Regions from separate parts of the Homo sapiens genome. Here region 2 is linked to region 1. Evidence: fine-mapped expression QTL. A gene starts in region 1. The other region holds a variant in brackets. All regions are shown on one strand. Distances are from middle to middle.

Evidence for each region.
Region 2: its variant is fine-mapped to the expression of AP5Z1 in whole blood (TOPMed, PIP 0.94).

The regions. Positions count from the first base shown.
Region 1 is chr7:4,769,481-4,779,518 of GRCh38, forward strand. It overlaps AP5Z1 (adaptor related protein complex 5 subunit zeta 1), which reads left to right and starts at 6,143. Exons shown (of 17, transcript NM_014855.3): 1 at 6,143-6,276. The coding sequence starts at 6,236. FOXK1 (forkhead box K1) reads left to right here. Exons shown (of 9, transcript NM_001037165.2): 9 at 1-1,962. RefSeq lists enhancers at 4,885-5,561, 5,562-6,238, 5,612-5,661, 5,702-5,791, 6,222-6,291 and 2 more and a silencer at 5,972-6,101.
Region 2 is chr7:4,792,098-4,808,145 of GRCh38, forward strand. RADIL (Rap associating with DIL domain) reads right to left here. Exons shown (of 15, transcript NM_018059.5): 10 at 13,469-13,619; 11 at 11,449-11,657; 12 at 9,556-9,898; 13 at 8,074-8,213; 14 at 7,533-7,672; 15 at 4,958-7,386. The coding sequence ends at 7,281. AP5Z1 (adaptor related protein complex 5 subunit zeta 1) reads left to right here. Exons shown (of 17, transcript NM_014855.3): 17 at 1-2,300. Among named protein-coding and RNA genes, the nearest start is that of MIR4656, 11 kb to the left of the region's middle. RefSeq lists silencers at 137-256, 6,081-6,130 and enhancers at 647-726, 831-1,505. The variant CA/C (reference allele first, on the strand shown) is at 7,895.

The sequences.
Region 1 (10,038 bases):
CAGGCTGGAGTGCAGTGGCCCAATCTCGGCTCACTGCAACCTCCGCCTCCCAGGTTCGAGCGAATTCTCCTGCCTCAACCTCCCAAGTAGCTGGGATTACAGGCACCTGCCACCACACCCGGCTAATTTTTGTATTTCTAATAGAGATGAGAGTGTTACCATGTTGGTCAGGCTGGTCTTGAACTCCTGACCTCAGGTGATCTGCCCACCTCAACCTCCCAAAGTGCTGGGATTATAGGCATGAGCCACCGCGCCTGGCCTCTGTCACTTTTTTTGCTCCTTACCCAGTTTTTGTTTTTTGTTGTTTTGTTTTGTTTTAGCGTGATACTACAATGGAAAGACTCCTAGTTGGTTATTCTTTATCTCGGATTCTTTTTTCTGGAATTGTTTGCTCATTTGAGTGGTTGGTGGTTTGCCCTGTGTCAGACACGGTGAAAAGAGTGCAGGAAAGCTGGGGCCAGGGGAAGCGAAGTGGCTTCAATCCGGGCTGACAGCCAAGAAGAGTTTTCCTCCCTTCGGTGACAGGGCCTGCCCCTCCGAGTCTAGAGGTAAAAGCAGCTTCTAGAACTGGCCCCTAAGTCTCCAAATGTGTTGGCTAAGCTGAAATGAGAGACTCTGAATTAGAGTTTTTGTTTGTTTGTTTGTTCTCTGCATGAAGTTCACAGGCCTGTATGGATGTTAAATTGTGTCTATAGCCTCTAAATCTCCAGGTTAACTGGTCCAGATTTTTTTTTTTTAATCAGTAACAATGGGAATTTAAAATCAAATATTTGGCCAGGTGCGGTGGCTCATGCCCGTAATCCCAGCACTTTGGGAGGCCGAGGCAGGCGCATCACCTGAGGAGTTTGAGACCAGCCTGACCAACATGGTGAAATCCTGTCTCTACTAAAAATACAAAAAATTAGCCAGGCGTGGTGGCGTGTGCCTGTAATCCCAGCTACCAGGGAGGCTGAGGCATGAGAATCGCTTGAACCTGGGAGATGGAGGTTGCAGTGAGCCGAGATCATGCCACTGCACTCCAGCCTGGGCAACAGAGGGAGACTCTGTCTCAAAAATAATAATCAAATCAAGTATTTTAAGTTTGGCTCTTCTTTTTTTCAAGAAAGGCTTTTTGGATACCTAGAATACCTTCATGTATGTGGCTTGATTTCTGTTTCAGGAAAAGGGGGGCGGGAGGAGAGACAACAGCCGTGTTCCAGAGTCTGTCCTGAGATGTCGCTGAGTCCAGACACTTGGGCTGCACGTGCCCTGCAGATGACAAAGGCCGGCAGCTCAGCACACGTGCAGGAGGGGTTAAAGCCAATATTGAGTTTTTGTTCTTGTTGTTTTAATCTGAACGATTATTCTCCTGTAAAAATAATTTGGGAGGGGCGGGTGTTGTTCGGTGTGTGTGTGTGTGTGTGTGTGTGTGTGTGTGTGTGTATTTTTTTTTTTACAGTGGCGCCTGTCTAAAGTATTTTTCACAACATGTTTGATAATCAGTGCTTTAAAAAGCAGCAGTGTCCTATGAAGTGGAAATGTCAGTTCTAGAGCATTGGATGTGAAGTTCTGGTCATGTCACCTTGCGTGTCTCACCCTGGAGGAGTGAAGGTGGGCGCCCGGCGGGGGGGTGTGGCTGCACCCCAGCACCGGGAGGGGGCACGCACGACACCAGAGGAAGGGACAGCCCCACCCATGTCAACAGCAGGCAACCTGTGTTTTCATTTCAAGTGGGATACAGTATTTTTTTAATAAGGAGCCATACTTTTTTTTAAGAGTTTGAGATCTGAATGTGATTTCTAATTGTATCAGACGTTAATGTTTTAAAGCTATAACAAAGTTTAAAATTTCTACTTTTTGTTTTTCATTTATTTTAACTGTTCTTTTATCTATTAAATTGTTGTATGTGGATGGGGAAGTTTTGTTTCTCCTCTTAGCATTTGTTTCTATAACCAGAAATAAAATTCTATATTAAAGAAATGACCCTGCGGCTCCGGTGTGGTCCTTCTGCGCAGGTGGCTACTGAAGGTGGCGGACGGACAGACGGCCTGGACACACAGACACCAGGCCCCTGGACACATAGGCTCCCGACCCCCTGGATACACAAACACCTGACCCCCTGGACACACAGGCTCCTGACCCCCGGACACACAGACCCCTGAGCCCCTAGACATACAGGCACCTGGCCCCCTGGACACAGAGGCTCCCGACCCCCTAGACATACAGGCTCCCGGCCCCCTGGACACACAGGCCCCTGACCCCCTGGACACACAGGCCCCTGACCCCCTGGACACACAGACCCCTGACCCCTGGACACACAGACCCCTGAGCCCCTGGACATACAGGCTCCCGGCCCCCTAGACACACAGGCTCCCGACCCCCTGGACACACAGACCCCTGACCCCTGGACACACAGACCCCTGAGCCCCTGGACATACAGGCTCCCGGCCCCCTGGACACACAGGCACTGCGCCCCCCTGCTCCAGAGGCTGAAGGGCGGCTGCTGATAAGGGAAGTCGCCCATAGGTCCCTGGTGTCCCGTTCCTGGCTCACACAGGAGATGCTTCTGCAGGTGCCTGTGGCTCCTGGAGTCAGTGACCCCCACCCACTGAGAGTGCTCTAAGCGAGGATGTTTGCAGCTCCAGGAATGTGAAGACAACGTGTGTCTCCCCTCAGACATGGCAAAGGCAGAAACCAGCTGAGCCAACCCCCTGCCCCTGGCACACGCCCACATCCTGGCTGGGGGGCACTTGCAGGTACTCGTTGCTGCCCCAGTGGCTCCTGGGCAACTGTGGGTCCTTCCTGCTGGCCCTTGGCTAGATGAGAATTTCTACCCATGTCCAAGATGGGTAGAAATGTACGTGGGTAGAAATTCTCTCAGGCCTTACTTATTGTAGGTGTGGGGCCTGGGGGGTGGGGATGGCATTGACTTTGGAACTACACAGACCTGGGTTCAAGTTCCTACTGTGTCCTTACCAGCTGTGGGACTTCAGCTTGCAATGCGCCCCACTTCTTCACATGCAGCACAGGCACCCCCACCCCACAGGCCTGGCGCCCCGAAGCTCAGCTGCGATGCCATCAGTCACTGTCTCTTCTGAGAGTCCCCCAGACTTATGAGACCCTTGGGTGTGTCTGTGTGACTGCCTCCGACAGACTTGACAGTGGTGCATGCTTGTCACATGTCTCTCTTCTGTCAAGGTTCTGTAGTGTTTGCATGTGACTCCCTCAGTTCAATAACTTGCATTTTTCCGATGGCACAGTTACCCACCATTGCAGGTAAGGTTTCACTGCTTCTCTGTCTTCCTTCAAGTTACTCCATTTCCATTGTAAGAGGTTAACATAACTTTAACAGATTAGTTCTAGTTTAAGATGTCAGCCCAGGCTGGGCGCGGTGGCTCACGCCTGTAATCCCAGCACTTTGGGAGGCCAAGGCGGGTGGATCATTTGAGGTCAGCAGTTCAAGACCAGCCTGGACAACATGGTAAAACCCCGTCTCTACTAAAAAAAATACAAAAAATTAACTAGGCATGGTGGCTTGCACCTGTAATCCCAGTTACCTGGGAGGCTGAGGCAGGAGAACTGCTTGAACCCAGGAGGTGGACGTTGCAGTGAGCTGAGATCACGCCACTGCACTCCAGCCTGGGGGACACAGCAAGACTCAGTCTCAAAAAAAAAAAAAAAGAAAAAAAAGAAAAACATTTTAGCCCAATAGCAAACATGAGTGAGAAGCGTATGTAGGCTTCCTCCAGGGATCTGCGTTGGCTAATTATTAATTGCATCTTTCCTTTTTAAGATGTTGTCTTTGTGTTTGTTTGTTTGCTTGCTTGTTTAGAGACAGGGTCTTGCCATGTTGCCCAGGCTGGTCTTGAACTGGGCTCAAGCGATCCTCCTGCCTCGACCTCCCAGTGTTTGGATTACAGGTGTGAGCCACCGTGCCTGGCCTTTTTTGCTTTTGATTAGCACAACCATTTTTCACTAGTGAGACCTTAAAATAATATTTTACACTAATGTAAATATTTTGTAAGAAACAAGTCAAATATTACCCCTGGTAAAATTGCTTAAGGTCGTGTCTGTGTGAAGAGAGAGAGGGAGAGAGAGATTGAGATTCCTGGCACACAGTTGGAATCTCAGTTAAAGTTAGCTTCCCTGTGAACCTGGTATCTATACAACAAAGAGGGGTGCATCTCTCAGAACCCCAGAAGACATACAATTGTGCACTGCAGCTCTATTCGTTATTGTCAAAATCTGGAAACCGACCAAATATTCATGGACGAACAAGAAAAGCTAAGTACGGTACGATTCCATTTGCATGAAGTATAAAAAGACGCAAAACTAATCTCTGGTGATAAGAGAGACTAGCAGTTACTTGTGGGGGAAGGGAGTGGGCGTTGACTGGGAGGGGGCCACAGCGGGGAACCTCTGGGGAGCTGGAAATGGTCTAGGTCTTGAACTCAAACCATGGCAGGAACATTTACACCACAGAAATTATCAAACACAAATCAACCCCCGGCTCCCCACCGTCGCCAATGGAGCCGAGGCTTAAGACATTTGCAAATTTACCACCGATTTCTAGAAATGTAAATAGTGGAGTTCATTTAAGATTTGTGCGCTTTGGTGTGGACGTTTTACCCTAGTAAACGTTAAACACTGGCAGTAGGCTTTCCATAGACTACCTGTCACCAGCTTTCCTTTGCCAGTCTTCAACCTGCGGCTCCAGGGGCACCCGCCGCACTCCACCGACTCCCATCCACCGCTCACCATCCACCGATTCCCATCTCTTCATTCTCTGCACCAGGTGCCCTCAGACATCACTGGGCGCCCTAGGGCATCTCAAAGCCATGTTTGGAACTCCTGCAGGAAGCCCTCCCTCCTCCTCCTCCTTCCTTCCATCCAGGGGTCTTCTCGGGGCTTATCCCTTCAAGGCCTAACCTTGACCCACCCTATCTACGCAACATTGATTCCCACCCCTACCCTATTCCCCAGAACCTTCAGCAGTGCCTAGCGCAGCTAGGACTCAATCATCGCTTGTCCACTTAATGAATGACTCTTGGCACAAATTTCCTCGTCCTTTTCTGCCCCAGACAGACACCCCACAAACATGAAGTTACCCTTGATTTTTCCACTTTCTTCCTCCTGCCTGCAAATTCCTCAATCACAGGTGGTGCAAATCCTACCTCTAAATGGTACTGAATCTGCCTACTTTCGGGGCAACCTCCCTTACCTGGACCACAACTGCACCAGCCTCCTTTCTCCCTCAGGAGCTTCCCAATCCATTATCTCCCCTGCGGCCAGAGATCAGTTTCCTCCTGGGGTGCATTTAAGCCATAGGAAGCAGATCGCTACCCTAGGCCCGTCCCTCCCCACCCCTTGGTCTGGACACCCTCTGGGCTCATCTTAGGCCGCAGTCGCCGAAGCCTTCCTCCTCCGGTTGGACCCCCAACCAGGTCAGGCTGTCATAGCGTTTATCATGACGCTGGCGTGTCGCCCTGTGTCCCTCGGCCGTCTGCAGGATGGCAAACTTATGGCCAGGGCCCAGCACATTTGGGCACCCAACACATCCGTTAGAATGAACAGAAACTTCCCCTCTCCGAGCCTGTGGCCTCATCTGTAAAACAGAGATCGCGAGATCCCATGAATACCGTGGGGATTGAATAAGGGATTTTTTCGTTTCAAGCAGCAGGAACAGCGCGGGATGGGTGCTCAATAAATGGGAGCTCAAAAAATCCCCAAAACTGCCCAGAGCCGCGGCTATTCCTTGCAAACTGCTGGACACTGCTGGGCTCAGCCCACAAGTGTCGGAGTTTGCATCAGATTTTCAGGTCGTACTTAGCAAAGGGACTCCCGCACGACAAAGCTGTTTACGAAACAGAAACCAGAACTGGGGCAGTGACACTTTGGGGCCAGCAATGCCCTCTCCCAAAGCCCCAGGCGCCCAATTTCCGCCGAAATGCTTTCCGGGGTCGAAGGGCGCCGGGGCTCCAGAGTGCCGAGGTTCCGGGGTCGCGCGATTCCGCAGCTCCCAGGCGCCGACCCGGACCCCCGGCCGCGGCACCTACGCCCCGCCCCAGTCGCTCCACGCCAAAGCCCATTGGTCGGCAACCTGTCCCTCCTGCTCATGTGATGCGGCACGTGACGCAGCCACGTAAGGCCGCTGCGCTCACGTGACGCGGTCCCGGAAGTTGACCGGGGTGCGGAGCTCCTGGGCTGCAGCTCCTGGAGTTTCCGAGGTTCGTGCGCGTCTGGTGGCGGCGGCGTGATGTTCTCGGCAGGAGCGGAGAGTTTGCTCCACCAGGCCAGGTACGGGGGAGCTGCGGCCCCGGCCCTCCTTCCTGCATCTCTCCCTAGGGGCACACGGGGGTGGGTCTCACAGGGCAGGGGCTTGGGCGCCAGCCTTGCAGGAACCCGACTGGACTCGCCCTCGAGACTTGGGGATCGGGTAAGGCAACACGGCGGCCAGGCTTGGGGTGAGGAGGTCGGGGAGGGTCATGGTGGGTCCCCGGAGGAGGTGACACTTGAGCAGAGTCTTGGTGAGTGAAAGCAAGTGGGGTGGGACCCAGTCGACAGTTTAGTCAAAGGCTTGGCGGTGAGAACTCCGCGTCTGGCAGGAAATCGGGCAGCCGGGAGATTTCAGTGCCTCACAGTCAAGAACGCAAAGTCACAGTGTCCGGAGGCCTGCTAAGGAATAAGGCTGTGTGCCAGGCTGGGGAGCTGGAGGCCATCCGAGGGCTTTGCGGAACCGTGGGAGGGTTTTGTGACTTAAAAAGATCTCTCTTGCGCGGATGTATTAGCTAGGCTGAGAAATCACCCTCCAGGCTGGTTTCAGGCTGTGTCTGGACTCCCAGTAACGAGTGAGTAGCTCCTTCCTCACCAACTAACCAGTCATGGGGGAAAACAGTGTAAGCCAGGACTGAACAGACTCACGGTCCACCAAACAGGCAAAGACTTCATACTACATGTTTAAAAGAAGAAAATGCTGACCGGGCGTGGTGGCTCACGCCTGTAATCCCACCACTTTGGGAGGCCAAGGCAGGCGGATCACCTGAGGTCAGGAGTTCGAGACCAGCGTGCCCAACATGAGGAAACCACGTCTCTACTGAAAATACAAAAAAAAAAAAAAAAAAAAAAATTAGCCGGGCGTGGTGGTGGGTGACTGTAATCCCAGCTACTCGGGAGGCTGAGGCAGGAGGATTGCTTGAACCTGTGAGGTGGAGGTTACAGTGAGCTGAGATGGCGCCACTGCACTCCAGGCTGGGGGACAGAGCGAAACTCCGTCTCAAAAGAAAAAAGAAAAAAAGTAAAGAAAATACAGCCAGCACTACAGCCCCTTGGTAAACGTAAACAAACTTGGTGAGGTGAGAGGCCGAAGCAGGAGAAGTGCATGAACCCAGGAGGCCGAGGGTGCAGTGAGCCAAGATCGCACCACTGGACTCCAGTCTGGGTGACAGAACGAGACTCCATGTCAAAACAAACAAGCAAACCTGGACTCAGAGCTAGACCAATTGGTGGGAAAGATTCGGGTGGTTGAAATTGCTGTGATTATAGTGAGTGAGGTCTTGAAGGCAGGTTAAGTTCTAAAGCCCGAACAGGACAAAAATCTCTGATCAAAATAACCCTTAAGAGTCCACTCATTAGGAAGAGGCTTGGTGAATATGCAGCACCATCTCCCAGCAGCTCAACATAGGCAACCTTCCCTTCAATCCTGGACAGATATGTCATTCATGTGAATGTGGGGACTATATGAAAATGAAAAATACTGGCATCTCAGCATGTAACATGTTAATCCCAAGGTCCTTGCCAAGAGACAAGGAAAAACACCCACTGAGAACTTCATTCCCAGTCACATTCTGCTCAAGGTCATAAACTTGTGACATGAAAAACAAAAGGAAGAGCCCTCTTTATTTATTTATTTATTTATTTATTTATTTATTTTTATTAGAGTCTCTTTTGAGACAGAGTCTCCCTCTGTCGCCCAGGCTGGAGTACAATGGCGCAATCTCAGTTCACTGCAACCTCCGCCTCCTGGGTTCAAGCAATTCTCCTGCCTCAGCCTCCCAAGTAGCTGGGATTACAGGCGCCCGCCACCACACCCGGCTGATTTTTTGTATCTTTAGTAGAGATGGGATTTCACCACATTGTCCAGGCTGGTCTCGAATTCCTGACCTCAGGTGATCCGCCTGACTCGGCCCCTCGAAGTGCCGGGATTACAGGTGTGAGCCACCATACCCGGCTGAGCCCTCACTATTTAAATACCTGTTTCTCTGCCTCCCTGGCTCGGGTGGGCAGCCGTTTTTGAGGATAGAGTGTGGTTGAATTTCCCTATGTAACATACATGAGTTCTGCAGTTGCCCTCTGTTAGGGTTTCAAGAAGGTTAATCTATTAGGGCTTACCAGTTTTCACAATATTCTTAAGCCTGTGATTTCTGATGATATTTTAAAATAAATGACTGTAGTTTGAGGGTTAAGGTTTGGAGCCGGCCAGGCGCAGTGACTGGCCCACGCCTGTAATCCGAACACTTCGGGAGGCCGAGTTAGGAGGATCGCTTGAGGCTAGGACTTTGAGACCAGCCTGGACAACATAGCGAGACCCGTCTCTACAAAACAGAATTTTTAAAAAACTTAGCCAGGTGTGGTGGCACGTACCCATAGTCACAGCTACTCAGGAGGCTGAGGCAGGAGGATCACTTGAGCCAAGGAGGTTGAGGCTGCGGTAAGCTATGATGGTGCCACTGCACTCCAGCTCGGGTGACAGAGGGAGACCCTGTCTCCAAAGAAAGCCAAAAAGATTTGGAGTGAACTTTAGTTTCTCTCTAAATGTGTCAGAGATACGGAAAGCAAGGGTGCAAAAAGTGATCAAAGATAGCGCTGCAAGCTGAAGGATAAATGGAGAGAGCGGGAAGCGAGTAAAGGATGGGGGCATGGAGGGGTGCCCCGCAAGGTCGGGGATTTCCAGGAGGAAGAGCCTCAGCCCACTAGCTCGGGAGCTAGTGGGGCATGTATCAGGCACAGGGTCTGTGCGAAGGGACAGAAGCAAAAGAAACAGGACATGGAGTCTGGAGAAGGAAGGCGGGGCCGGGCTCTTGGAGGCAGCGTTGGGGTCTGTAGGAGTTTGGATTTGAAAGCAGTGGGGAGCTGTTGAAGGGTTTGGGTGGGTTGGATTTTAGAGAGAAGCTTGAGACTTGGAGAATATGCTGAAGGGAATTTAATCGGGATGAGGGGTTCCACCTTTCTGGGAAAGATTTTCCATTGTGTGTATATATGTATATGTGTGTATATATAATTTATATATAACATTTTATATATTATATATTACATATATATTTAGTAATATATAATATAATTATATGTTATATATTATATGTTATATTATATATCATTATATATAATATATAATGATATATAATATTTTATATATAATCAAAAAAAGAATAAAAAAAATTCACTGGGCTTAGTGTAGTCCCAGCTACTTGAAAGGCTGAGGTGGGAGAACTGCTTGAGCTAGAAGATCAGGCTGCAGTGAGCTGAGATTATGCCACTGCACTCCAGCCTGGGTGACAGCATAAGACTCTATCTCAAAAAATATATATATAGATAGATAGATAGATATAAAAATATATTTTTATATGTAATATATATAAAATATATATTATATACATTTTTGAGATAGAGCATATTATATATTATATATAACATATATAACAACTATATAACATATATAACATAACATATATAACAACATAATATATAGCATATATTATGTATAACATATATTAGATATAACATATATAACATTAGAAATAATGTATATAACATAACATAACGTATATAACGCATATAACAACATATATAACGTATATAACATAACACGTTATATATGATATATAACATATAACATGTTATATATCATAACGTGTTATATGTCATATAACATGATTATTATATATCATATATAACATGATAACATATATATCATATATAACATATATAACATTATATATAACATATATATTATATTATATATATATATTTTTTTTTGAAGTAGAGTCTTACTCTGTCACCCAG
Region 2 (16,048 bases), 26 kb after region 1:
GGAGCTCAGAACACTGGATTCGCGCGAAGGGGAGGTGTCTGGGCGTGCGGCCCCAGCCCCGCCACCTTCCTGGGCCCTGTGGTCCCACCCTCCGGACTACCAAGGCACAGCTGTGTCGCACGTTCCGCCCGGTGCCTGGGACGGGCTCAGCCGCCAGGGGGCGCCGCCGCCCCGAGAGCCTCACGCCCCGCCCCCAGGCTCAAACTCTTCCCCCTCCCCACTCTGGCTCCGCCCCCGGTCTCCTCTTTTGCTCTGGCCCCGCCCACCTCCCCTCCGGCCTCGGCCCCGCCCCCAATCCCCCATAGCTCTGCGACTAAGAAACCACAGGCTGAAGGCGACTGCAGGGTCCTGCCCCTTGCCCAGCCTCAGGACTATGGAGGGGGCGAGTGACGCGCAAGGAACGGAGCAGGGGACACCGTGCGGGCTCAGGAGCTCCCCAGATGCCCGAGCCGAACCGCGGGGTCCTCACCGCCAGGTTCCAGCCCAGGAAGCGCTCGCCTGCCCCACAGCCTGGGCCTTGGGTCGCGTTCCGAGCTCCAGGACGGCTGGTGTCCCCCGCGGCCTGCGATGACAGCCCAGGGCCGCTGAGCCGGGGCCGCAGGAAAGGCTGGCGCTGGCAGGCGCTTCCGTCGGCAGCACTGTGTTTGTGTTTCCACGTGGAAACAGCAGCGCACGTGTACAACTGTGCATACCAAGGCGTGCGTGCCAGTGCGCGGGTCTCGGGATCACTTCCCAGTGCGGTGCACGACCCCGCCTGCAGCAGTGGGTGTGGGGGCGCTGCTGGGCTCATCCCGAAGCTCAGAGAGCGTGGGGCTGCCCCTAGGCTCGGAATGAGTCTCCCACTGAGTCCGCAGCTCCCCTCCTGCCCTGGGGCGGGGCTTCCCTGACCTGAAGGCGTCGGGGGTGTCCTGGCTCCCAGCTCCCAGGCACTCGTGGGGCCACCGCCCAGGCCAGCTGGTGCTAAGTCCGCAGCCTGTGCAGCAGCGCCCGGCTTAGGACTGGGAGTGTGACTTGAAGGGCCGTCCCGCTCATCCAAGGGACAAGGAGGAGCTCATGGCCACAGGGCCTCGGAGGGCATGACCCCAGCCCAGGGAGGAGCAACCTTCAGGTGGCCTCCAGGAGGCAGCTGGGAAAAGGGCAAAGCTCACCAGCTCTCAACTTTTTTTTTAAATAAACTGAAATTTTAGAATAGTTTTTCAGATTTACAGAAAAGATGATAAACCTTAGAAACATTATATGCTAAGTGAAAGTGAGAAGTGACAGCCTGCTGGCAGTCCTCACAGCCCTCGCTCGCTCTTGGCGCCTCCTCTGCCTGGGCTCCCACTTTGGCAGCACTTGAGGAGCCCTTCAGCCCGCCACTGCACTGTGGGAGCCCCTTTCAGGGCTGGCCAAGGCCGGAGCCGGCTCCCTCAGCTTGCGGGGAGGTGTGGAGGGAGAGGCGCGGTGGGAACCAGGGCTGCACGCGGTGCTTGCGGGCCAGCGCGAGTTCCGGGTGGGCGTGGGCTCTGTGGGCCCCGCACTCGGAGCCGCCGGCTAGCCCCGCCAGCCTGGGCAGTGAGGGGCTTAGCACCTGGACCAGCAGCTGCTGTGCTCGATTTCTCACTGGGCCTTAGCTGCCTTCCTGCGGGGCAGGGCTGGGGACCTGCAGCCCGCCATGCCTGAGCCTCCCCCCTCCCCTCCGTGGGTTCCTGCGCAGTCCGAGCCTCCCCAACGAGTGTTGCCACCTGCTCAGGGCACCCAGTCCCATCGACCACCCAAGGGCTGAGGAGTGCCTTTGGAGCAGGGCACGGGACTGGCAGGCAGCTCTACCTGCAGCCCCTGTGCAGGATCCACTGGGTGAAAGCCAGCTGGGCTCCTGAGTCTGGTGGGGACTTGGAGAACCTTTATGTCTAGCTAAGGGATTGTAAATAAACCAATTGGCACTCTGTATCTAGCTCAAGGTTTGTAAACACACCAATCAGCACCTTGTGTCTAGCTCAGGGTTTGTGAATGCACCAATAGACACTCTGTATCTAGCTACTCTGGTGGGGACTTGGAAAACCTTTTTGTCAACACTCTGTATCTAGTTAATCTGGTGGGGACATGGAGAACCTTTGTGTCTAGCTCAGGGATTGTAAACGCACCAATCAGCACCCTGTCAAAACAGACCACTCGGCTCTACCAGTCAGCAGGATGTGGGTGGGGCCAGATGAGAATAAAAGCAGGCTGCCCGAGCCAGCAGTGACAACCCACTCGGGTCCCCTTCCACACCGGGATGCTTTGTTTGTTCGCTCTTTGCAATAAATCTTGCTGCTGCTCACTCTTTGGGTCCACACTGCCTTTATGAGCTATAACACTCATCGCAAAGATCTGCAGCTTCACTCCTAAAGCCAGCAAGACCACGAACCCACTGGGAGGAACGAACAACTCCAGACGCGCCGCCTTAAGAGCTGTAACACTCACCGCGAAGGTCTGCAGCTTCACTCCTGAGCCAGCGAGACCACGAACCCACCAAAAGGAAGAAACTCCGAACACATCCGAACATCATAAAGAACAAACTGCGGACACGCAGCCTTTAAGAACTGTAACACTCACCGCGAGGGTCCGCGACTTCATTCTTGAGGTCAGTGAGACCAAGAACCCACCAATTCCGGACACAAAAGAATCCAGACCCAAGGCCACATACTGCATGACTCAGGTCAGAGGCGTGGGAGCCACAGCAACCGCGTCTTAAATAGGGGCTGGGTAAAAACGAGGCTGAGACCTGCGGGGCTGCATTCCCAGGAGGACAGGCATTCTTAGTCACGGGATGAGACAGGAGGTCAGCACAAGGTACAGGTTCAAGATGCGGGTCCCAAAGACACTCCTGATAAAATAGGATGCTGTAGAGAAGCTGGCCAAAACCAAGACAGCAACGACAGTGATCTCTAGTCATCCTTGCTGCTCGTTAGTTGCTAATTATAATTCATTAGCATTCTAAAAGACACTCCCACCAGCGCAGTGACAGTTTCCAAATGCCACGGTAACGTCAGGAAGTTACCTATGTAGTCTAAAAAGGGGAAGGACCCTCAGTTCCAGGAAATCTTCATCCCTTTCCTAGAAAACTCATGAATAATCCGCCCCTTGTTTAGCATGTAATCAAGAAATAACTCTAAATATACTCACTAGCGCTCATGCTGCTGCTCTGCCTTTGGAGTGGCCATTTTTTTTTTTTTTTTTGAGACAGAGTCTTGCCCTGTTGCCCAGGCTGGAGTGCAATGATGCAATCTCGGCTCACTGCAACCTCCACCTCCTGGTTTCAAGCAATTCTCCGGCCTCAGCCTCCTGAGTAGCTGGGATTACAGGTGTGTGCCACCACCCCCAGCTAATTTTATTATTTATTTATTTTTTTTTTTTTTGAGACAGAGTCTTGCTCTGTTACCCAGGCTGGATGGAATACAATGGCACAATCTCAGCTCACTGCAACCTCCGCCTCCCAGGTTCAAGTGATTCTCCTGACTCAGCCTCCTGAGTAGCTGGGATTACAGGCGCTTGCTACCATTCCCAGCTAATTTTTCTATTTTTAGTAGAGACGGGGTTTCACCATGTTGGCCAGGATGGTCTCAAACTCCTGACCTCAGGTGGTCAGGCCTTGGCCTCCCACAGTGCTGGGATTACAGGCGTGAGCCAACGCGTCTGTCCCACCCAGTTAATTTTTGTATTTTTAGTAGAGATGGGGTTTCACCATGTTGGTCAGGCTGGTCTCGAACTCCTGAGCTCAGGTGATCCACCCACCTCAGTCTCCCAATATGCTTGAATTATAGGCATGAGCCGCTGCGCCTGTTTCTTTTCTTTCTTTTTTTTTTTTTTGAGGCAGAGTCTTGCTCTATTGCCCAGGCTGGAGTGCAATGGCGCGATCTCGGCTCACTGCAAGCTCCGCCTCCCAGGTTCACACCATTCTGCCTCAGCCTCCCAAGTAGCTGGGACTACAGGTGCCCACCACCACGCCCGGCTAATTTTTTGCATTTTTAGTAGAGACGGGGTTTCACCGTGTTAGCCAGGATGGTCTCGATCTCCTGACCTCGTGATCTGCCCGCCTCGGCCTCCCAAAGTGCTGGGATTACAGGCGTGAGCCACCGTGCCCGGCCTGTTTCTTTACTTTCTTAATAAACTTGCTTTCACTTTATGGACTTGCCCTGAATTTTCCCTTGCTCGAGGTTCAAGAACCTTCTCTTGGGGTCTGGATCAGGACCCCTTTCTGATAACACTTACATGAAATATCCACAAGAGGTGTAGACAGAGGCAGAAAGTGGGTTTGTGGTTGCCAGGGCCTAGGGGCAGAAGGGAATGGGGAGAGCCTGCTTAGTGGCCGTGTTTTCCCCGTTGGAGGTGACCAAACTAGACAGTGGTGATGGTTGCATAACACTGTGAACGTGCTGCTTGCCATTGAATTATACACTTTAAATAGCTAACTCTATGTGAATTCCACTTTAACTTAAAAAGTGGTGACAACTGAATATGTACAAAGCGTAACTGCTATATTAATAGTAACAAGTCAACGTCGGTTTTCAGGTTTTGCAGTGGGAGAAGCTGGTGGAGGTACACGGGACTCTGCTATTTTTGCAGCTTCCTTTGGATCTATAATTATGTCAAAATAAAATGCTTTTAAAACACAAAAACAGGCCGGGCACGGTGGCTCACGCCTGTCATCCCAGCACTCTGGGAGGCCGAGGCAGGCAGATCACCTGAGGTCAGGAGTTTTGAGACCAGCCTGGCCAACATGGTGAAACCTGGTCTCTACTAAAAATACAAAAATCAGCTGCGTGTGCTGACAGGTGCCTGTAATCCCAGTCAGGAGACTGAGGCAGGAGAATCACTTGAACCTGGGAGGCGGAGGTTGCAGTGAGCCGTATTGCACCATTGCACTTCAGCCTGAGTGACCAGAGTGAAACTCCATCAACAAAACAACCAAAAAACAAAACACCCATAAGAAGTGTTACCTTTCACAGTGTTGTAGATTGTCTGGGGCCTGGCTGGGAAGTCGTTCTGCTCCACGTGGTGTCCCCGGGATCACTGGTGGGACTGCATTCGCCTGGAAGCTCAGCAAGACCAGAACAGCCAGTGGCAGCCCTCACCAGTCCCGCACCTCAGCTAGGTGCTTCAGCGGCCAGAGGCTAGCTGGGCCTCCCCGACTCCACGGGGCCTCCCTTCCTTGGGGTGATGCCAAGAGCTTCTTTCCATGGATGCTGAGTTCCAGGAGCATGAAAATAGAAACCAAAGGCCCTTCAGTCTGGCTTGGAAGGTCCCAGAATATCACTTATGCTGCATCCTGTTGTTCGGAGCAAGTCAGAAGGCCGGAGAATATTGCAGGGAAGAAGAGATAAGCCCCCTTCTCTTTGTGGGAGGAACTGTTGGTGGCCACCTTTGGAAATGCCTTGCCACTGTCTTTCCTCTGGCCACAGTCCACACCCCTCCCACATAAAAAATATACTCAACCCCCTTCCACCGTTAAGGCATCAAATCAGAGTCCAGGATCCTGGGATCTGCACCAGGTCCAGAAATGCAGACCGTCCAGAGCTGTGAGACATTCTCGGCAGTGCTAACACACACGTTGTGGGACTCCTAGGAAAAGAAACAGAACAAGGCCAGGCATGGTAATCCCACGCCTGTAATCCCAGCACTTTGGGAGGGCAAGGCGGGCAGATCACTTGATGTCAGTTTGAAATCAGCCTGGCCAACGTGGTGAAACCCTGTCTCTACTAAAAGTACTAAATTAGCCAAGCGTGGTGGCAGGCGCCTGTAATCCCAGCTACTCAGGAGACTGAGGAGAATTGCTTGAACCTGGGAGGTGGAGGTTGCAGTGAGCTGAGATTGCACCACTGCACTCCAGCCTGGGTCACAGAGCGAGACTCCGTCTCATAAAAAAAAATTAAATATTTATATTTTATATAATAAAATATAAAAAATGTTTATAAAATATACGAATATATTACGTATACATGAATATGTAATATATTCATATATAATTATATATTTATATATATTCATATATTTTACATATCTTAAATATATATACAAACACTATATATATATATATATTTTATCCAGTATTTTGGGAACCTGGCAGTGGTCGCCGTTTCGAGCCAGGCGCAATGCGGAGCCGCACACAGAACTGCGGGTCGGCAGAGGGCGCGGGGCGGACGCGCTGCACCTCGCCGTAGCGCACACCAGGGGGCAGCGTGGAGCTGCACGAGGCCCAGGGCCTGGGACAGACCCAGGACACCGATCTGGGGACCCCGCACAGACCTCTGTCCCAGTGAGAGGTGCATCTGCAACTGATGCCGGGACCCTCTTCCCCAGGGTTTCTCTGTTGCTATCAAAGATGACCCTGGGCCACCAGTTCCACCACAGCCAGGAGGGCGCGGAAGCCACCCACACCCAGTTGGTGGAGCTGCTGAGGATGCCCAGCGACCCACGCTGTCACCCCGAGGCAGCAAGTGCCCTGCCCTGGTCCTGCGCATGGTCAGCCAGCTGGTGGAGAGGGACGCTGGCCTCCTGCCCGGGTTAGGGCCGGTGGCCAGGGGGACGCTGGTGAGGATTAAGGGCCTGGGGCCGCCAGCCTGGTATCAGGGCCACGCTGGTGGCTTTAGTAGGGGAGAGGAACTCAGGAGGGAGCAGGAGTCCTGGGAGAGGAAGCAGGGCCCAGGGTGGGCTCGGCGCCTCAGAGACCATCAGGCCGGTCCACTTTCCAACGCCTGGGTGTCTAGACCTTTCTCTGGGGCCTGTGCTGAGCAGCGGGATCAGAAGTCCAGCATCCTCTGCCAGGTCTGGCCCTGCTTCAGCTGGGAGGGGCTGTTGGAGCTGCTTCCTGCAGTGCCCTGTGTCTGGGTGGGACGGGGGCAGGGAGAGTCAGTTCAGATGATCCCCTGATGACAGCTGTCACTGCATTCTCCCGTGCCGGTGGCAGGCAGAGGCCATGGGGAGCCCCTGCGGCCCCTCCGAGCAGCCCACGCCTGCTGCCCGAGTTGAGACCCCAGCAGGGCACCCTCTAAGAACGGGAAAAATAGTTTATTGAACCGTACTTCTCCATTGAAGTCTTTAAACATAAAAGCTCTGTAACAAACATCACAATTTCACGTCATCTGCCATATAAATAGAACCTACACTGAGATGCATGTTATCAACAGGCATGTCCCCAGGGTGAGGCTCCCCACCCGGGACCCAACTTGGTCAGTTACAAAACAGGGACGAAGGCGGGAGGAAGCCCAGTGTCACCAGGTGGGACCGGGTGCCGGGCCTGTGGGGGTGTCCTCGCAGCCCCCCTAGAGAGGGGGCGTGCGGAAATGGATCTTCTTGGCTGTTTCCACGTCGGACTTCGCGACCAGGAACCGCATCTTCTTCCCGCCATGACGGATCAGGTCCACAGCTCTGAAATCCATGCCAGAGGTGGGGGTGGGCAGGAGGGCACCAGGGGAGACCCACAGGGTGCAGCCGGGCCTCTCCTTTACCCCAGGTCCACTCCCCTGAGCAGGGCATCTGGGAGAAGGGGCCGGGCGTGCATGCGGTGGGGGTACCTCAGGTAGCCAAGGCCCAGGAGGCTGCTGCCATTCACCTCCAGGATACGGTCCCCCAGCGACAGGCGCCCGTCGGCCGCTGCGGGGCTGCCCGGGAGCAGGGTCTGGATGTAGAGCCCGGGGGCGCCCAGGTGCGTGTGCTGGGGACAAGCAGAGGCCTCAGAGCTCCGCAGGCCCGACTGGCTGTCCCCAGCGAGGACCACTGCAGCCCCTCCCTTGGCACCTACAGGCCCCCGCCTGGCATCCAGCCAGGCCCACTCATGGTTTCACGCGTCCCTCCAGAAAAGCAGTGGACACCACCGTCCCCACAGGCCCAGGACAGACCCCAAAGGCTTGAGGACAGAGGCAAGAGACAGCAGGCC[CA/C]GGGGGCGTGGCCGTTGGACAGGCTGGGTTCCCCTCCCAGCTGCAGAGGCCAACCCCACTCTCCTCCCCGAAGGCCTTCCTGTAGCCACGTGGCCACGCAAGCTGCGGCCAGGCTTGCATGAACAGGCGGGGCCAGGCAGCCAGTATGGGGGTGCGGCGAGGGTCCTGGGCCACTCACCATCCCGTCGATCAGGCCCATCCCCAGCCCGGAGGGGCCTCGTTCCAGCTCCACCGTGAAGACGTAGCAGAAGTCCTCGGTGCTGGAGCTGCGGCTGGACGGGGCTGGAGGGGACTCCTCCGCAAGGGCTGCAGAGTCTCCTGGGTGGGGGCCAGGAAAGGTGGGTGGGAGTGAGGCGCCAGGAATCACGACGAGGAATGGGATGTCCTGGCCTGGCTGCCTCTGTAGGGCGTCAGGGATGGGATGGCCTCCTGTGGCTCCCAGGAGACGCTGTTCAGGCAGAATGTGACCGGCAACCCAGACATTAGGGTCGGGGTCCGCCCATGGGCGACACCCCCATGTTCCCTGAGGGAGCACCTCAGTCCCCGCCCCTGGCAGTCCCAGGACACTCGCCCCTCTGGGGGCGGCTGTTTTCCAGCTCCAGGGACCCACGCGGTTCTGTGCCACCTCCTCAGCAATCTCTGCTCCTCCTCCTCCTCCCTCCACACCCAGATGTGGCCATGTGCACCCTGAGGGTTCCCACCGCTGACCAGACCGGGGCCCCAGGCCCTAGCCCAGCCCAGCCCAAGCACCTGCCCTGAGGGCCACCAGCTGGTGCCCTCTCCATAATGGTGATCCTGCCGTGGGTGCACTTAGGTCAGAGATGAGCTGTGCACCTGAGCAAGTGGCCTGCCTGGGACCCAGCTTGGCCAGGTGGCCCCAAGCCACAGGGGACACTCTGACTCTGCACACGCACCCAGGACACTTCGCTCCTGCAAGGCACACCCAAGCCCCTCACAGGAGGCCAGGGCCGGCTGGGGCTGCCTCACCCTCAATGCCCTCCCCAGCCTAGGCCAGCTGCGCACACACACTCATGCACACATATACTCACAGCCATGCACACATGTGCAAGCATGCCCATGCACACGTGCACTTACACCCATGCACAGATGCACACACAATGCACACCATGCAGACACACCCATGCAGAGATGCACACACAATGCACACCATGCAGACACACCCATGCAGATGCACACACCCATGCACACACGCACCAGCACACCCATGCACCTGTGAGCACACATATCCACACGCACAAGCACACAGGCACACACAGGCCCTGCCCTGGAGGACTCCAGCTCCACCTTCTCCCTGAAGACCCCTGGGTTCCCCCTCAGCACATCCTCTCCACTGGCTCAGCCATCCCTTCCTCTGCCCAGTGCAGGAGTGACTCTGAGCCACTTTCTAGACTCTCTCCCTCCCAGATCACAGTGAGTATCTGCCCAAGACGTGTCAGCGACTGAGCGACCGTGTGGCCCAGCTGCTGGGGGCTGAGCAGCCCTGAGCCCTCTCCATCTGGCCCCGTCTCAGGTTGCAGGTGTCTGTGGGGCAGGTAAGGAAACCTAGGACCCAAGGGGGGAACGATCCCAGGGGACCGGCCATCAGGGTGCTGTGCGGGGTCTGGGGTGGGTTCCCGCCTGAGCACCAGGCAGGGCTCACCTTCCGGAGCTGCACCCCGGAGGCCGCTGAGTCCGTTCCTCTGCCTCTCTGGGAGCGCTTTTCCACAGGGGCCGCCGGACTCTGGCCAGTCGGGGTCCCCAGGCTCAGGGCCAAGTGGAGTGCTGGGAGGCGTGAGCAAGCAGGACGAGTCCGTGTGCGGGGGGCCAGCCTGGGAGCCCCCACGGCTGGGTTGCCTTCCAGGGGGGGCCTGTGCCCAGGGAGCCCCCCTCAAGGGAAGAGTACGCTCCGGGGCCACTTCCCGGGCTGCTGGGCCAGGGTCCCTGGGAGCCAGGGGGCAGCTCGGGGCCTCCAGGTGCCCGTCAAGGACCACGTGGTGCATACCCTAGGGAGAGGAAGGGTGACAGCTCAGGTAGAGGAGTGGCCAGGTGGACACAGCACTCGGGCAACTGGGCAGCCTGCAGCAGAAGGGCCGCCAGGCCGCGGGGCAGAGGTCAGCAAAGGACTCCCGCAGCCTGTGCAGCTTGAGACGCGCAAGAGGCAAAGGGGCTTCCCCGCCATCCGGAGCACAGCCTGCGCTGGGCCAGGACTCCCGGGGTTCCCAGAGCTCCCGCCTGCTGCCCCCAGCCCAGCTTCCAACCCTTCTCCTGTCCTCCCGGGCACCTCGGGGCACGCTGGCTGGGGGGCCCCCTCCCCAGGTACCTCGGGGCATGCTGGCTGGGCCCCCTCCCCGGGTACCTCGGGGCACGCTGGCTGGGGGGCCCCCTCCCCGGGTACCTCGGGGCACGCTGGCTGGGCCCCCTCCCCGGGCACCTCGGGGCACGCTGGCTGGGCCCCCTCCCCGGGCACCTCGGGGCACGCTGGCTGGGGGGCCCCCTCCCCAGGTACCTCGGGGCATGCTGGATGGACCCCCTCTCTGGGCACCTCAGGGAATGCTGGCTGGACCCCCTCCCCGGGCACCTCGGGGCACTCTAGCTGGGGGGCCCCCTCCCCGGGTACCTCGGGGCATGCTGGCTGGACCCCCTCCCCGGGCACCTCGGGGCACTCTGGCTGGGGGGCCCCCTCCCCGGGTACCTCGGGGCACGCTGGCTGGGTCCCCTCCCCAGGCACCTCGGGGCACGCTGGCTGGGCCCCCTCCCCGGGCACCTCGGGGCACGCTGGCTGGGGGGCCCCCTCCCCAGACACCTCGGGTCATGCTGGCTGGACCCCCTCCCCGGGCACCTCGGGGAATGCTGGCTGGACCCCCTCCCCGGGCACCTCGGGGCACTCTGGCTGGGGGGCCCCCTCCCCGGGCACCTCGGGGAATGCTGGCTGGGTCCCCTCCCCGGGCACCTCGGGGCACGCTGGCTGGGGGGCCCCCTCCCCGGGTACCTCGGGGCACTCTGGCTGGGCCCCCTCCCCGGGCACCTCAGGGCACGCTGGCTGGGGGGCCCCCTCCCCGGGTACCTCGGGGCACGCTGGCTGGGTCCCCTCCCCGGGCACCTCGGGGCACGCTGGCTGGGGGGCCCCCTCCCCGGGTACCTCGGGGCACTCTGGCTGGGTCCCCTCCCCGGGCACCTCGGGGCACGCTGGCTGGGGGGCCCCCTCCCCGGGTACCTCGGGGCACACTGGCTGGGCCCCCTCCCCGGGCACCTCAGGGCACGCTGGCTGGGGGGCCCCCTCCCCGGGCACCTCGGGGCACGCTGGCTGGGTGGCCCCCTCCCCGGGCACCTCAGGGCACGCTGGCTGGGTCCCCTCCCCGGGCACCTCGGGGCACGCTGGCTGGGTGGCCCCCTCCCCGGGCACCTCGGGGCACACTGGCTGGGCCCCCTCCCCGGGCACCTCGGGGCACGCTGGCTGGGTGGCCCCCTCCCCGGGCACCTCGGGGCACGCTGGCTGGGTCCCCTCCCCGGGCACCTCGGGGCACGCTGGCTGGGGGGCCCCCTCCCCGGGTACCTCGGGGCACACTGGCTGGGAGGCCCCACTGCCAGGCCTGCCAGGGCTGCCGGGGCTGGCTCTGCTCCGCAGACCCCACAGAAAGTGGCGGACGTAGAGCAGGTGCTGGTAGATGCTGTCGTCCAGGCAGTTGGCTTCCAAGTCCACCTGGAAGCCGTCGCTGGGCAGGACGATGGGTGGGGGGTTTTCGTAGGACTCCAGAACATCCTCTGCAGGGGAGAGAGGATGCCCGTAATGGCCACAGGAGAAGCTGCCTCCCTCGCCAGGCCGCCCCGCCCAACGGTGTGGGAACCCAGGGGCCAGCAGATTGAGCCCTGAGTCCCCTGCCCTGTGGACACAGGAGGCTGGGATCCTGGCCACAGTGACTGGCCCCACCCTAGGACTCATCCCTTCTGAATTCCCGCCGACCACCCGGTGTGACATCCGAGCAGTTCAGGACTGAGAACAAGGCCTTGTAGCCAGGAACCCTCCAGCCCCACTGAGCCGCTCTGCACTGGGCCTGTCTCTGCCCCACTGGTCTCTGATGGTGTCTCCGGGTAACTGGAGCTCCCCCAGCCCGGCAGAGCTGGACGCAAGCTCCTCCCAGGGCTGGAGCCGACTGCCTCCCTGCAGGAATCACGGGACCCAAACGGCCTGTGTGCGGGCTGCTCTCTGCCCCCAGGAACAGGAGCACCTTTCAGGCGGCGGAAGAGTGCGTGCATACTGAGCTCCTAGCTCCCAGCACAGAATTCAGGCCACAGAAATGAATCAATGCGGAGGAAGGACTTAGAAGGTGTCAGGTGGAGCCAGGGTTCCTGTTCAGAGATGTTCTCCACGGTGACCCGGGGCTGCGGGGGGGCATCCAAGGCCCCATCGCCTCTGCGCCTCCCGCCATCCCGTACTCTGTTTTGTTGAGGTGTTAACACATAATGCAGATGAAGGGAGATGTGTGTATAATCTACACATTATAATGCACCCCTGGCCGGGGGTGGCGGCTCACGCCTGTAATCCCAGCACTTTGGGAGGCAGGAGCAGGCAGATCGCCTGAGGTCAGGAATTCGAGAGCAGCCTGGCCAACATGGTGAAACCCCGTCTCTACCAAAAATACAAAAATTAGCCAGGCATGGTGGCACACACCTGTAATCCCAGCTACTTGGGAGACTGAGGCAGGAGAATCGCTTGAACCCAGGAGGTGGAGGTTCCAGTGAGCCAAGATCGAGCCACTGCACTCCAGCCTGGTGACAGAGTGAGACTCTGTCTCAGTCAATCAATCAATAAAAGGCACCCTCGGCCAGGCACGGTGGCTCATGTCTGTAATCCCAGCACTTTGGGAGGCTGAGGTGGGCGAATCACCTAGGTCAGGAGTTCGAGACCAGCCTGGCTAAGATGGTGAAACCCGTCTCTACTAAAGATTCAAAAATTAGTTGGGCGTGGTGGCGGACACCTGTAATCCCAGCTACTAGGGAGGCTGAGGTAGGAGAATCGCTTGAACCTGGGAGGTGGAGGTTGCAGTGAGCTGAGATTGCACCACTGCACTCCAGCCTGGATGACAGAGCAAGACTCTTGTCTCAAAAATAAAAATAAAATAAAACGCACCCCTATGTATGCACGTACACATGTATGCGCACACAGACCCCTCCGTATGGACATGTGTGTGTGCGTGTGCACATACATGGCTCAGGGATGCGTCCCCACGGCTGTGTACCACCATTGCTCCCTTCCTGGGTAGCCATACAACAGGGGAGGCCCCATCCTCCGGCTCCGTGAGGGAACGAGGGGGCCTTGGACCTGAGCCTGGAGTTTGGAACTTGGGCATGGACTCTCGGCTCCTTGACTCCCCCGCCGAGGAGGTCCCCGGATCCCCAGGTTGGGGATGGGGCGGGGCGGGGGGGTCCTCTGGGTGGAGGCTCCTCCAGGGAGGTCCCCAGGAGAGAGGTCCCCCACACCCCACTTCAGTTGGGATGAGAGCATGCTGCCTCCAGCCTCGGGGCGAGTCTCCCACTGAGTCCCCAGCCCTCTCCTGCCCTGGGGCAGGGCTTACCTGACCTGAAGGCCTCGGGGCTGTCCTGGGCCCCTGGCTCCCAGGTGCTCATGGGGCCCATGGCCGAGGCCAGCTGGTAGTGAGTCAGCAGCCGGTGCAGCTGTGCTGGGCTCAGTGCGGGGAACGCAGCCCGCAGGGCTGTCCAGCTCATCTGGGTGACAAGAAGGAGCTCATGGTCACAGGTCTCTGGGTGCAGACCCCAGCCCAAAGAGGGATGGCCTCCACAGGTGGCCTGGGGGTAGCCAGCTGAGGGGCCCTGTGGTCCTCACTCCCACCAGGGGCCATCTGTGAGGGGGACGGTGTCACAGCAGCAGTTCACCCCTGGCACTTCCAAGGGCAGCTGCTCCAGGGAGAGGCCGGCCAGTGCCATCGGGAACCCCCTGCCCAGGGAACCCACCCCCGTCTCAAGCAAGGGCCGGCCTCACAGGCGGCCGCCAACCAGAGAAACCACTACTGGGAAATGAACAGTGAAATCAGATTCCTGCCTCCAACGGTGTGAAAGAAATCAATCAAGTCGGCTAAAAACCTGCCTGGAAGGCAGGGACATTCATCATTTAGGTGACAGGAGGCAGGGAAAACATTTGTTTGTTTGCTTGTTTTTTGAGACAGAGTCTCATGCTGTCACGCAGGTTGGGGTGCAGTGGCTCAATCACAGCTCACCGCAGCCTCGACCTCCCAGGATCAAGCGATCCTCCCACCTCAGCCTCCTGAGTAGCTGGGACCACAGGCTTGCACCATTATGTCCAGCTCATTAGTTTTTTGTTTTTGTTTTTTTTTGTAGAGATGGAGTTCTCACTATGTTGGTCTCAAACTCCTGGTCTCAAACTCCACGGCTGGTCTCAAATTCCTGGCCTCAAGCAATCCTCCCGCCTCAGCCTCCCAAAGTGTTGGGATTGCAGGTATGAGCCACTGGCTCCGGCCCAGGAAAACGTTTTAGGCAAGACAAAAAGCCTACACCGTAAGGAAGGGTGGATCCCTCCAATAAAATTAAACAGCCTCTGCGGCCCGCCAGGACCTCCATCATCATCCTTCTGGGGTTCCTTTCCCCGGCTCCCAGCCGGTTCTTATTTTCTGCAATTCATTTCTTCAGCTCTCTGGTTTGTCCTGTTTCTATGGAATAGATCTTCTAGTAGCTTCCCAAAAGGGGCGCATTGCAGGAAACCCACTGCCCTGCGTGCTGGAACTGTCTTCACCTCCACCCTGGACTGGTCATCTGGCTGGCACAGAACTCCAGGCGGGAGGGCGTCACCCTTCGGATTCTGCAGGTGCTGTTTTGTCCTGTGACTCCCGTGCTGCTCGTCCAAAGCAACCTGAGTGCAAATCTTCAGGGTCTGCCTTGTACTGATTCTTGTCTGGAAGCCTGTGGGTTCTCTGCACCCATCGTCCTGCAGCCCTGGGATGCTGAGTTTTGCTGTAAGCCCACTCTTGGCAGCAGCTCCTCCACCTCAATGCGTGGCTCTGGAGACTGCCTGCACCTGCCTTCCCCGCGCCCTCCACCCCTCTGCTGGCTCTTTCTGGACTCCCACTGTTTGGATGTGGCCTCGCTGCTGGGTCCCCTCTGTTCTCACCTTTGCCTCCTCGCTCTGTTTCTCTCCCATGTGTTTTTCTGCCCATATCCAGGGGCCTGGGCTGTGGCTACCAGATGTCCACGCTGAAGGATAATCGGTGTCTCGGGCGTCGTGCAGGAGGGGTGAGGGCACAGAACGACGTCCTCCAACACCACCGGCCCCCACCACCCTCACCCCTTACACACCCTTCAAGAAAGCCTCTGGTTTGCCCGGGGGTGGTTCTGTTTGATTGTGAGTTCCTAGAACCTTCTCTACTCTCACTTCTGTGCTTGGTCCGGGACCAGAGGTCGGGGCCAAGAGATCAGCTTCAAGGGAACAGAACTCTCCTCCTTCTTCCCTCTCCTTCTCCCCCTCCCTCTGTCTGTCTCCTCTCCCTCCTCCCTCTCCGTCTCCCCTCCCTCCTCTCTCCCTCTGTCTCCCCTCCCTCCTCCCTCTCCTTCTCTCTCTCCCTGTCTCCCCTCCCTCCTCCCTCTCCTTCTCTCTCCCCCCGTCTCCCCTCCCTCCTCCCGCTCCTTCTCTCTCTCTGTCTCCCCTCCCTCCTCCCTCTCCTTCTCTCCATCTCTCTCCCCTCCCTCCTCCCTCTCCTTCTCCCCCTCCGTCTCTCTGCCCTCCCTCCTCCCTTTCTCCCCCTCCGTCTCTCTCCCCTTCCTCCTCCGTCTCCTCTCCCTCCCTCTCTCCTCCTTCCTACCCCTCTTCTTCTCTCTCCCTCTCTCTCTCCCCTCCCTGCCTCTCTCTCCCCCCCATCTCTCTCCCCTCCCTCTTCCCTCTTCTTCTCCCTGTCCCTCCCTCTCTCCACTTCCTCCTCCCTCTCCTCTCCCTCCCTGTCTCTCTCCTCTCCCTCCTCCCTCTCTCCCTGTCTCTCTCCCCTCCCTCCTCCCTCTCCTCTCCCTCCATCTTTCTCCGCTCCTTCCTCCCTCTCCTTCTCTCCCTCCCTCCCTCTGTCTCTCTCCCCTCCCTCCTCCTTCTTCCTCTCTTCCTTCTCCTCCTCTCCTTCCCCTCTTCCTCTCTCCCC